Linked DNA regions of Homo sapiens. The protein of the gene in region 1 purifies or fractionates together with the protein of each later gene. This does not show direct contact. Each region holds a gene or a part of one and is shown on either strand. Other genes may lie near its edges.

The links.
Region 2: the proteins of SMARCB1 (region 1) and BCL7A purify together in Homo sapiens (affinity purification with mass spectrometry; 8 studies listed by BioGRID and IntAct, with this or other methods). This does not show direct contact.
Region 3: the proteins of SMARCB1 (region 1) and BCL7C purify together in Homo sapiens (affinity purification with mass spectrometry; 8 studies listed by BioGRID and IntAct, with this or other methods). This does not show direct contact.

Annotation. Positions count from the first base shown.
Region 1 is NC_000022.11:23,793,459-23,797,106, forward strand, and holds part of SMARCB1 (SWI/SNF-related matrix-associated actin-dependent regulator of chromatin subfamily B member 1), read left to right. Parts: intron 1-100; coding exon 101-230; intron 231-3,648.
Region 2 is NC_000012.12:122,028,250-122,031,897, forward strand, and holds part of BCL7A (B-cell CLL/lymphoma 7 protein family member A), read left to right. Parts: intron 1-2,450; coding exon 2,451-2,532; intron 2,533-3,648.
Region 3 is NC_000016.10:30,887,337-30,891,084, reverse strand, and holds the end of BCL7C (B-cell CLL/lymphoma 7 protein family member C), read left to right. Parts: intron 1-2,126; exon of another isoform or gene 2,127-2,139; coding exon 2,140-2,225; exon of another isoform or gene 2,226-2,371; intron 2,372-3,094; coding exon 3,095-3,220; 3' UTR 3,221-3,290; downstream 3,291-3,748. UniProt on the Homo sapiens protein: May play an anti-apoptotic role.

The DNA.
Region 1 (3,648 bases):
CCTCCCGCATGCGAGGACCTTGATGTGCTGCATCCACTTGGCTGGCTGCTGTGTGCCACCGCCACCAGCAGAGTGACCCAGTGATGTTTGTCTGTTACAGATCACGGATACACGACTCTAGCCACCAGTGTGACCCTGTTAAAAGCCTCGGAAGTGGAAGAGATTCTGGATGGCAACGATGAGAAGTACAAGGCTGTGTCCATCAGCACAGAGCCCCCCACCTACCTCAGGTAATGCGTTCCTGGCCAGGGCATCTCTGGGGACACCTGTGGGGTCTTTTCTGAGACTCAAGAACTGGTTGGGTTGAAGTTAAATTGAAACACTTTTTTTTTTTTTTTTTGAGATGGAATCTTGTTCTTGTCGCCCAGGCTGGAGTGCAGTGGCACGATCTTGGCTCACTGCAACCTCTGCCTCCCAGGTTCAAGCGATTCTCCTGCCTCAACCTCCCAAGTAGCTGGGATTACAGGTGCCTGCCACTATACCTGGCTAGTTTTTTTTTCTTTGAGACAGAGTTTCACTCTTGTTGCCCAGGATGGAGTGCAATGGCGTGATCTCAGCTCACTGCAACTTCTGCCTACTGGGTTCAAGTGATTCTCCTGCCTCAGCCTCCCAGATAGCTGGGATTACAGGCATGCGCCACCACGCCCAGCTAATTTTGTATTTTTGGTAGAGACGAGTCTCTCCATGTTGGTCAGGCTGGTCTCGAAACCCCACCTCAGGTGATCCGCCCGCCTTGGCATCCCAGAGTGCTGGGATTACAGGCGTGAGCCACCGCGCCCGGTCCTGATTTTTGTATTGAAACACTTTTTAACAGTTCCCTCTGTTTTTATACATTTTCTTAGCCAGGTTTCTAAGTTTCTTCTATATCATTGGAATTTCTAAGAAACGTAAGCCAAGTCCTGGATTCCGGAGAACAGTTACAAATGCTTGGAAAGTGGGACTCGTGGGGCACAGTGGCTTATGTTTGTAATCCCAGCGCTTTGGGAGGCCGAGGCATTGCTTGAGGCCAGGAGTTTAAGACCAGCCTGGGGCAACACAGCAAGACCTCATTTCTTAAAAAAACATGTAAGTGGGACCAATTTGTCAGAAAAATCAGTGGCTCACATAAACTCACAAAAGAAACAACAATAGATTTGAATGTATAAAAACTTAGAACCTGGCTGGGCACGGTGGCTCACACCTGTAATCCCAGCAGTTTGGGAGGCCGAGGTGGGCAGATCACCTGAGGTCAGGAGTTAGAGAGCAGCCTCATCCACATGGAGAAACCCCATCTCTACTAAAAATACAAAATTAGCCAGGTGTGGTGGCACATGCCTGTAATCCCAGCTACTCGGGAGCCTGAGGCAGGAGAATTGCTTGAACCCGGGAGGTGGAGATTGCAGTGAGCTGAGGTTGCACCTTTGCACTCCAGACTGGGCAACAAGAGTGAAACTCCACCTCAAAAAAAACAAAAACAAAACAAAACTTAGAACCTTTAGAAGAGTATTTATAGTAACAATTAAAAAACCAAGTAATTGGGAAGTTACGATGTTGTATCTAGAATCTATACATCTAGATTTATACAACAAACTTGGATACCCCAACAAATAGGTAAAAGATGGTCCATACCTTGAAGTACAAGGGAGTAAACAAACATGGAAAGAATTTGCCCTCATGTGTAATTTCAAAAATTCCAAGCATAAGACTGGGCATGGTAGCTTATGCCTGTAATCTCAGCACTTTGGGAAGTCAAGGCAGGAGGATCGCTTGAGCCCACGATTTGACTGTGTTGCCCAGGAGACCAGCCTGAGCAACATAGTGAGACGTTATCTCTACTGAAAGTTAAAAAAATTAGCTGAGTGTGGTGATCACACCACTGTCCTCTAGCCTAGGTAACAGAACGACACTCTTTGTCTCTTAAAAAAAATAAAAAACAGGCCGGGCACGGTGGCTCACGCCTGTAATCCCAGCACTTTGGGAGGCCGAGGCGGGCGGATCACCTGAGGTCAGGAGTTCGAGACCAGCCTGACCAACATGGTGAAGCCTCATCTCTGCTAAACGTACAAAGTTAGCCTCGCATGGTGGTGCATGCCTGTAATCCCAGCTACTCAGGAAGGCTGAGGCAGGAGAATCACTTGGACCCGGGAGGCGGAGGTTGCGGTGAGCCGAGGTTGCGCCATTGCTCTCCAGCCTGGGCAACGAGAGTGAAACTCCATCTCAAAATAATAAAATAAAATAAAAAATAAATAAATAAAAAATAAAAATAAAAATTCCAAGCATAAAACAAAAAACTGGCAACATAAGGAATTGGGGAAGGTGTGATAGAACTGCACTCATGTGTGCTGGAGGTGCTTTTTTTTTTTTTTTTTGAGATGGAGTTTTCACTCTTGTTGCCCAGGCTGGAGTACGGTGGCATGATGTCGGCTCACTGCAACCTCCGCCTCCTGGGTTCAAGCGATTCTCTTGCCTCAGCCTCTGGAGTAGCTGGGATTACTGGAATGCACCACTATGCCTGGCTAATTTTTTTGTATTTTTATTAGAGACGGGGTTTCACCATTGTGCCCAGGCTGGTCTCGAACTCCTGACCTCAGGTAATCCTCCCGCCTCGGCCTCCCAAAGTGGTGGGATTACAGGTGTGAGCCACTGTGCCCAGCCGGGAGTGCCCTTTCTGTAAAGCATCCTGACATCAAACTTTTTTGTTCTCTGGCCCATTAATACCGCCCCTGGGAATTTGTCCCAAAGAAACATTTTCAAAGAACAAAATGAATCAGTAAACCCACTATATGTACAGAGATTCTCTGTAGCATTGTGAATAATACTGGAGAATATGGAGTCGCTTAAGTATCCAGCCTTTAAGGAAAGGCTAGGTTAGTGACGGGTCAGCCACTTGAATGGACAAAGGTGTGACCCATACATGGTATAATTAAGTAGATTCTGCAGTGACCCGAGACGGGTCCTGTGGGTGAGACGTGCAGAATACAAGATTGTACCCATCTACCTTGTGCATTCAGCTCTCAACAAAGTATGCATTTCTCTGCACAAAGCCCAAGGAGCATTAAGAAAAAGGATTATTGTTCAGAGTGATGTGGTTATGGAAAATCTTTTTTATGATTCCCCTGAAAGGTGGCACGCCTCCAGGCTGGCCAGTGTTACAGACGTGTGCTTTGCAGATTCTTTTTCCCCCAAGGGATGTGGTAAGAACATAAGGATGGCTTGGCCTTCCCAGGGAAGTTGCAGAAGGAAATTGTGTACATATGGAGGGCACTTTAATTCTGCACATGTCAGCTGGGAATCTTTTATGGGGCGATAAAACAGTTTCTTGGTGATCATGTCGTGAGGAACAGCTGCAGGAGTGGAATCCCGTTGCCCTGGAGGTCAAGTCTTTAGGGGTGGGGGCTGGCAGAGGTTTGAGGGAAGTGGCTTTGGCTGGCTCCACACTACTCAGTCAGCCCAATAAGGGGACTTATGGCACCCTCCCCATCCTGTCATCGGACAATTTGAGCAGAGGCTGGGTGCCCTCTCTCAGGGATGCTGGGATTGCAATGGAAGGAAGGTTGTTTTTCTTTTTTTTTTTTTTTTTGAGACGGAGTCTCGCTGTCGCCCAGGCTGGAGTGCAGTGGCGCAATCTCGGCTCACTGCAGGCTCCGCCCCCTGGGGTTCACGCCATTC
Region 2 (3,648 bases), on another chromosome or scaffold:
GGCACGAAAGCCTGGCTGCATTCAGCTTGTAGCCTGCGGTGGCCTCGAGCCTCGCTGGGAAGCAGCTGCAAACTTGCATCTTGGCTGATTTGCGGCCGCAAAGCCCAGATCTCTGGCACACTTTCTGCCCTGAAAGGTGTCCTGTGTGTTACAAGTCAATTACTTTTTTTTTTTTTTCCCAAACACAATCAAACCTTGAATGGGTTGATTTACTGGGAAGCTGGTCCAGGGCTCATGAGTAATGAATGGCTTTGGCCAATCTGCATGGAGTCCTGGCAATTTGTCATTCTTCCTCCAGCTTCTGTTACCCTGGCGCTCCTTTAGAATGATTCTTGGTTTTCATGGCCAACAGAATAGCAGGAGGTGGTGTCTGGGGTCCGAGCCCAAATCTAATTCTCTTCTGCCACTTCCTGTCTGTGAGACCCCAAGCTAGTGGTATAACCTCTCTGGGCATCCTGTTTCTGCATCTGTAAAAAGGGTGACAATCGTCCCCCTCTTGTAGCCTGTTGGGAATCCCAGGGAGAGAGGGTGTGTAAGTAGAGTGCTTGGCGTGGAGCCTGGCATGTAATAGCCTGGGCACACAGTGGCTATTGTGATGGTTGCTCTAACAACTGAGGTTCTTCCCAGGAGCACTCGGTCTCTTCTGGACACCTTCTGATTGCTCAGAATTGAGGAGGGGAAAGGTGGGCATTGTGGTTTGTCTGCTCTGCCCACAGGAGGCAGGAGACGGGCCAGTGGACTTAGACACTCGTCTTTCCTGCATCGTTTCTGGGTGAAAAGGTGCAAGGAGGAGGGAGCAGAGAGGCTGGTCTCAACAGCTGTGCTGGGTGAAGGGTTCGAGTGCTGGCTCTGGGAGAATGAGTTCACCTTCACCGCCCTGTGCCTCGGTTTCTTTATCTGTCAAATGGGGAAGTTGCCATTTCCTGCCGGATGAGCCGGCACAGTCCTTGGTACATAGAAGGCGCTAGGAATGGCCACTGGTATAATAAGAAAAGCCGGGCCGTAGCGTCCTCTGATGGAACACGTGGGACCCGAGCGGGCAGGGTTTTTGGGGGTGAGGTGTCTGTGGTTTCGGCTGGCTGGGTTTGAGTATGCTCCGTCATCCCGCAACCCCCGTGGTGACAGGGTGGGAGTCCTGTAACCTGTCACACCAGCATGTGAGGGCCACATGCCCCACGAGGGGGTGATCTAAGGCTGAGTTTGGGCAGAGAGGCCAAAAAAAGGTGCCAGGCAGCTCACGGACAGAGGTGCTCGTGCCACACAGAATTCTCAGTTCTGGGAATTTTTGTCACCAAAATTGCTGAGGACTCGGGCAGCTACGTCGCCTGTACCAGGGGTGCGCCTGCCCCAACAGTGCCTGCTGGGCCCCTTAAATCCGCCAGCCTCCTAGCTGAGCCATCAGTGGCTCCTTGGTGGCCTCGCAGGTCTCCTGATCTGGCAGAGTCTTGATTTAGGAGCCTCGGTTCCAACCCCAGCCCTGCTTCTGGGAGGCTCTCCTGAGCCTCAGTCCCCTCAGGGGTGTGGCTGCTGGGTCTTCGTGGCGGTAAGGGACAAGTCGGAGTGCAGGGGGTCAAGGACAGGAGGTGGCTGGCTGTAGCAATAATCGGAAAAATGACAGTGGCTCGGAGCAGAGTGGTGGTGGTGGAGGAGAGGGTGGGCATTGTTATCTCGAATGAAAACCAGTCCTGTTTGCTTCTGTGGCTTGTAAGTTTCTCCTCATCCATAAACCTGCCTCTCACAGTGGGGGGTCTGGACTCCGTCCTTCAGGCGTTTGTAATGCAGCTGGGGTGACCTTGCAGACAGGGTCACTAGGAGCCCTGAATCAGGGGTGCAGTTCCCCTCCCACCTGGCTGCACCCACACATTCAGGCTGTGTAACCTCCTTTCGGGCCGAGGTCACCACTCCCTGGCTCTCCTTGGCCGCCACGAAGGGCATTCTTCCGGCAGAGTGTGGGCGGCTCCCCGGCTTGCCTGCTCATGCCTCCCCTGACCTCAGACGCATCGCCCAGAGGGCAGGAGGAGCCCCGGGGTGTCCTTGGTGACGACTCCACCCCCCATGAGAGGAATCGGCCTGCTGGCCTGAAGCCCTCTCTGCTGCCCAGACAGGCGCGGGTGGCCCAGTCCACTGGCTGCGTGGCATTGGCAGTGACACAGGAGGAACCTGGGCCCGACTCGTGCCACCCATAGGAGTCCTTGTAATGGCAGCCCCACCCTCAGCCTTTTTGGCGACAGCCTGGAGAGGGCAACCACCCTATGTGGTGTAACGGGTGGAGAAACCAGGCTTAGATGGGTGATGTGGCCTGCCCAGGGCCTCCCGCTAGTGAGGGTGGAGCTGGGATTCCAACCCTCATCTGTGTGATCTGGAGCTTGCTCTCAGCCCCAAGGGAGTGTGGCCTGTGTCCCCCAGGGATGAAGAGTCCCCGGTAACAGGCTCTTCCTCATCCTCCTCAGGGAGAAGAAATGGGTGACCGTTGGTGACACATCCCTACGAATCTACAAATGGGTCCCTGTGACGGAGCCCAAGGTTGATGACGTGAGTATGGAGGGCTGGTCCCCTGGGGTGGGCCACCCATTCGTGCTCCTCCCACCATGGGGAGGGAGATTGTCCACTGCTACCCACCGTGCTGGGGCTCTGGGACCAAGAGCCCCTGGGAGTAGAAGGACCCAGATTAGACCTGGGGAGGCTGCTGTACCAGTCCCCACCCCTCCCACTCCAGCCCCAGAGTCTGGCCCTCAGAGCGGTGGACGGGGGGATCCCGCAAGCTGTGTCTTCTTCTTCTTCTTCTTCTTCTTTTTGATACAGAGTCTCACTCTGCCGCCCAGGCTGGAGTGCAGTGGTGTGATCTTGGCTCACTGCATCCTCTGCCTCGTGAGTTCAAGCGATTCTCCAGCCTCAGCCTCCCGAGTAGCTGGGATTACAGGTGCACACCACCACACCCAGCCAATTTTTTCGTATTTTTAGTAGAGACGCAGTTTCACCGTGTTGGCCAGGCTCGTCTTGAACTCCTGACCTCGGGTGATCCACCTGCCTGGGCCTCCCAAAGTGCTGGAGTTAAGGCGTGAACCAGTGCGCCCGGCCTGCAAGTTGTGTCTTCTGGGCCGAGCGCCCCCCCCAGGGCTTGGCACTGTGTTTTGGGGCAGGTGTGGTGGTGCCCACAGTTAGGCACGTTCTCCCCACCTTTGTGGTTCTGTTCCTGAGCCTCTGACCATCTGCCAGGCCCTGGGCTGATGCCTCACATGTGGCATCTCCGTTATTTTTCCTACTCAGCCTGTGGAGTTGATCTTTTTAACCTCTCCTCTGTACAAGTGAGGGCACAGGCTCAGAGAGGTGAAGCCACTTCACATGGCTCACCTCAGAGCTGTGAATGGAGCTCAGGTCTGTCTGACTCCAAAGCGCAGGTTCTCTCTGCGCTTGGAGAGGCTTCTGGTGAGTGGAGCTGCTGGTGACAGGGGTCCCCGGTGCTAGGAAAGCCTGGTGTAGGGATGCGGGGCTCCAGGAGGGCTCCAGGAGGGGTGGCGCCATCCCGACTTCCACCACTAGAGGGAATGCGAGGCGCTGTCCTGTGATGGCTGGCAACTGCCCCGAGCAGACAGTGCTCTCCCAACTTCGTGGTTCCCAGGCCAGTTACCTCCAGAGACCCCTCTCATT
Region 3 (3,748 bases), on another chromosome or scaffold:
CGATTCTTCTGCCTCAGCCTCCCATGTAGCTGGGATTACAGGCATGCCACCATGCCCGGCTGATTTTTGTTTTTTTTGTTTATTTGTTTGTTTGTTTTTGAGACAGAGTTTCATTCTTGTTGCCCAGACTAGAGTGCAATGGCACAATCTCAGCTCACCGCAACCTCTGCCTCCCGGGTTCAAGCGATTCTCCCGCCTCAGCCTCTCGAGTAGCTGGGATTATAGGCATGCACCACCATGCCCCGCTAATTTTGTATTTTTAGTAGAGACGAGGTTTCTCCATGTTGGCCAGGCTGGTCTCGAACTCCCGACTTCAGGTGATCCGCCTGCCTCAGCCTCCCAAAGTGCTGGGATTACAGGCGTGAGCCACCGTGCCTGGCCTAATTTTTGTATTTTTAGTAAAGATGGAGTTTCACCATGTTGGCCTGGCTAGTCTCGTACCCCTGACCTCAGGTGATCCGCCCGCCTCGGCCTCCCAAAGTGCTAGGATTACAGGTGTGAGCCACCGTGCCCAGCCAACACTTTACGTGTTTTTTTCTCATTTAATTTTTACTACAACCTTATAAGGGTGATGATCTTGTTATGATCCCTATTTATAGATGAGGAAACTGAGACCCAGAGAAGTAACTCAGCCAGTGAGCCAGCATCTTGGGCCTGTGTCCTCATCAGCTCTGCTTTTTTTTTTTCCTTTGAGATGGAGTCTCACTCTGTCACCTAGGCTGGAGTGCAGTGGCACGATCTTGCTCACTGCAACCTCCGCCTCCCAAGTTCAAGCAATTCTCCTGCCTCAGCCTCCTGAGTAGCTGGGATTACAGGCTGCACAACACCACACCCGGCTAATTTTTGTATTTTTAGTAGAGACGGGGTTTCATCATGTTGGTCAGGATGGTCTTGAACTCCTGACCTCGTGATCCACCTGCCTCGGCCTCCCAAAGTGCTGGGATTACAGGCTTGAGCCACCGTGCCCAGCCAGCTCTGCTTTCTTCCATGCAGTCAAACCCGTCTGATTGGCACCTCTTCCTCCTAGGCTCCCTGTCCCTGGCCTTCCCATTTCTCACCCGTTTTTGGTTCCAGCTGGTCTCTTCTAGTCACCTCCACACAGCTGCCAGAACAACTTTTTCCTTCATTTTTTAAGCTTTGCTTTTTTTTTTTTTTTTTTGAGACAAGGTCTCACTCTGTCGCCCAGGCTGGAATGCAGAGGCGTGATCACGGCTCACTGCAGCCTTGGATTCCTGGGCTCAGTCAGCCTCCTGAGTAGCTGGGACTACAGGCATGCATCACCATGCTCAGCTAATTAGTGTTGTTATTCTTTATAGAGACAGGGTCTTACTATGTTGCCCAGGCTGGTTTCAAACTCCTAGGCTCAAGCGATCCTTCTGCCTCAGCCTCCCAGAATGTGAAACCCTGTCTCTACTAAAAATACAAAAAATCAGCGGGACGTGGTGGCACATGCCTGTAATCCAGCTATTAGGGAGGCTGAGGCAGGAGAATCACTTGAACCTGGGAGGCGGAGGTTGCAGTGAGCCGAGATCGCGCCACTGCACTCCAGCCTGGGGGACACAGCGAGACTCTGTCTCAAAAACTAAAACAAACAAACACACAAAAAGAAAACCCTGATGTGGGCCTGTGGACTGGGTCTGGGTCTAGACAGTGCCAAGCAGTTGTATACCTTTGCTAATATAAAAATGGTAGCAAGCATTTATTGAGCACTTACTGTGTGCCAGCCACTGTGCTTTACCTGCATCCGCTCATCTGACCCTCACAACAGCCACATGAGGTAATTACTATCATTATCCCCATTTTACAGATGGGGAAACTGAGGCCCATGGAAATGAAGTAGCTGGCCCAAGGTCAGGATTTGAACCCAGGCAGTCCAAGCCCAGAATCTGTGGCAACTTAGCATGCATTCCCTCTGTCTCACGTGTCATACTTTCCTGTCCACCGCATCACCCTCGAGCTCCCACATCAGTGTTCCCTCCTCTGCTTCCTGGGGCACAGCCAGGTTCCTGCTCTCTCCTCTCTGCTCCCATGGCCCTCTGCCCTCTGTGACTGGGGCCTGTGACCATCTGTTTCCCCCACTGTCTGTGCTGCTGGCACAGAGTGGCTGTTCAGGGGATGTTTGTTACCTTGACGTTCCAGATCCCGGGGGCATAACTGCTGGCAGCACCGACGAACCCCCAATGCTGACCAAGGAGGAGCCTGTTCCAGAACTGCTGGAAGCTGAGGTGAGAGAGGCCAGAAGGCTGGACTCCTGGGTCTTGGAGGGAATGGGGGATCTGGGCAGTCGAAGGCTTGGAGCCTGCGTCCTGAGGGCCTGGAGGAGAGGCAGACCTGGGACAGAGCTGAAGGCTTAGGGGCTGGGTTCTTGGGACTGAAAAAGAAAGGGTGTTTCAGAGACAAAGTGCTGAGGGCTGGATCAGGGCTGATTGAGACCATTAAAAGCCTGACAAAGCTGGGCGTGGTGGCTCACGCCTGTAATCCCAGCACTTTGGGAGGCGGAGGCGGGTGGATCATGAGGTCAGGAGATCGAGACCATCCTGGCTAACACGGTGAAACCCCGTCTCTACTAAAAATACAAAAATTAGCCGGGCGTGGTGGCACGTGCCTGTAGTCCCAGCTACTCGGGAGGCTAAGGCAGGAGAATTGCTTGAACCCGGGAGGCGGAGGCTGCAGTGAGCCAGGATCGCGCCACTGTACTCCAGCCTGGGTGACAGAGCGAGACTCCTTCTCAAAAATAAATAAATAAATAAAGCCTGACAAAATCATGGCGCTCCTCCATGCATTTTCAAAAAATATCAAAAAATATCTAACTGTATAATTAGCATAAGAAAATTCCTTATAAACCTCTGACATTTCTCACGAGGCTACCTCGAGGCATTTTCAGAAATATCAAATATCAGGTTCGTTCCTCCACACAGTGTCACTGTCGTTGTTGTTTTTGGTGCCTGCTTCCTCTGCATCCTGGGCATCTGGCCCTGGGCTTGCCTCCCGGGCCCAGGAGGGGAGGGGAGTGGAGGCTTTGGAGAAGGCAGAGGCTCAGAGGCTGGACGCCTGGGTTCTGTGGAGCTCACGCCTGTCCACCCTTCCTCTCCAGGCCCCCGAAGCTTACCCTGTCTTTGAGCCAGTGCCACCTGTCCCTGAGGCAGCCCAGGGTGACACAGAGGACTCGGAGGGTGCCCCCCCACTCAAGCGCATCTGCCCAAATGCCCCTGACCCCTGAGAAGCCGGCCTGCCTGTCCTGTTGCCCCAGGGGCCCCTTTGGCTTTTTACAAATAAAGACCCTTTTGTAATTTTGTGTCATGTCATTTCCCCGTCAGGGCTGGGGAGGGTCTTTGGAGACAGTTTTGTCTCATGCACCATTGCTCAGATGTGGTCACTGAGGCTCTGAGAGGACCTTCCTGTAGTGACACCACAAGGCAGAGTGGGGTGGGGGCTTGAGCCAGGACCCTGCCTCTCAGTACTTCCCAGGTCTGTCCTATCTCCCGACCTTCACCTCCTCCTCTGGGAGGCCCAGGACCCCTCTTCCTGCTCAGCCCTCGCCTGGGCCTAACAATTATCAAAACTCTGGGTAGCTAGGCCATGATTCTTTTTTTTTTTTTTTTTTTTTTGAGACACAGACTTGTTCTGTTGCCCAGGCAGGAGTGCAGTGGTGCGATCATGGCTCACTGCAGCCTTGACATCCCACCTCAGCCTCCCAAGTAGCCGGGACCACAGGTGTGTGCCACCATACTCAGCTAATTTTATTTAT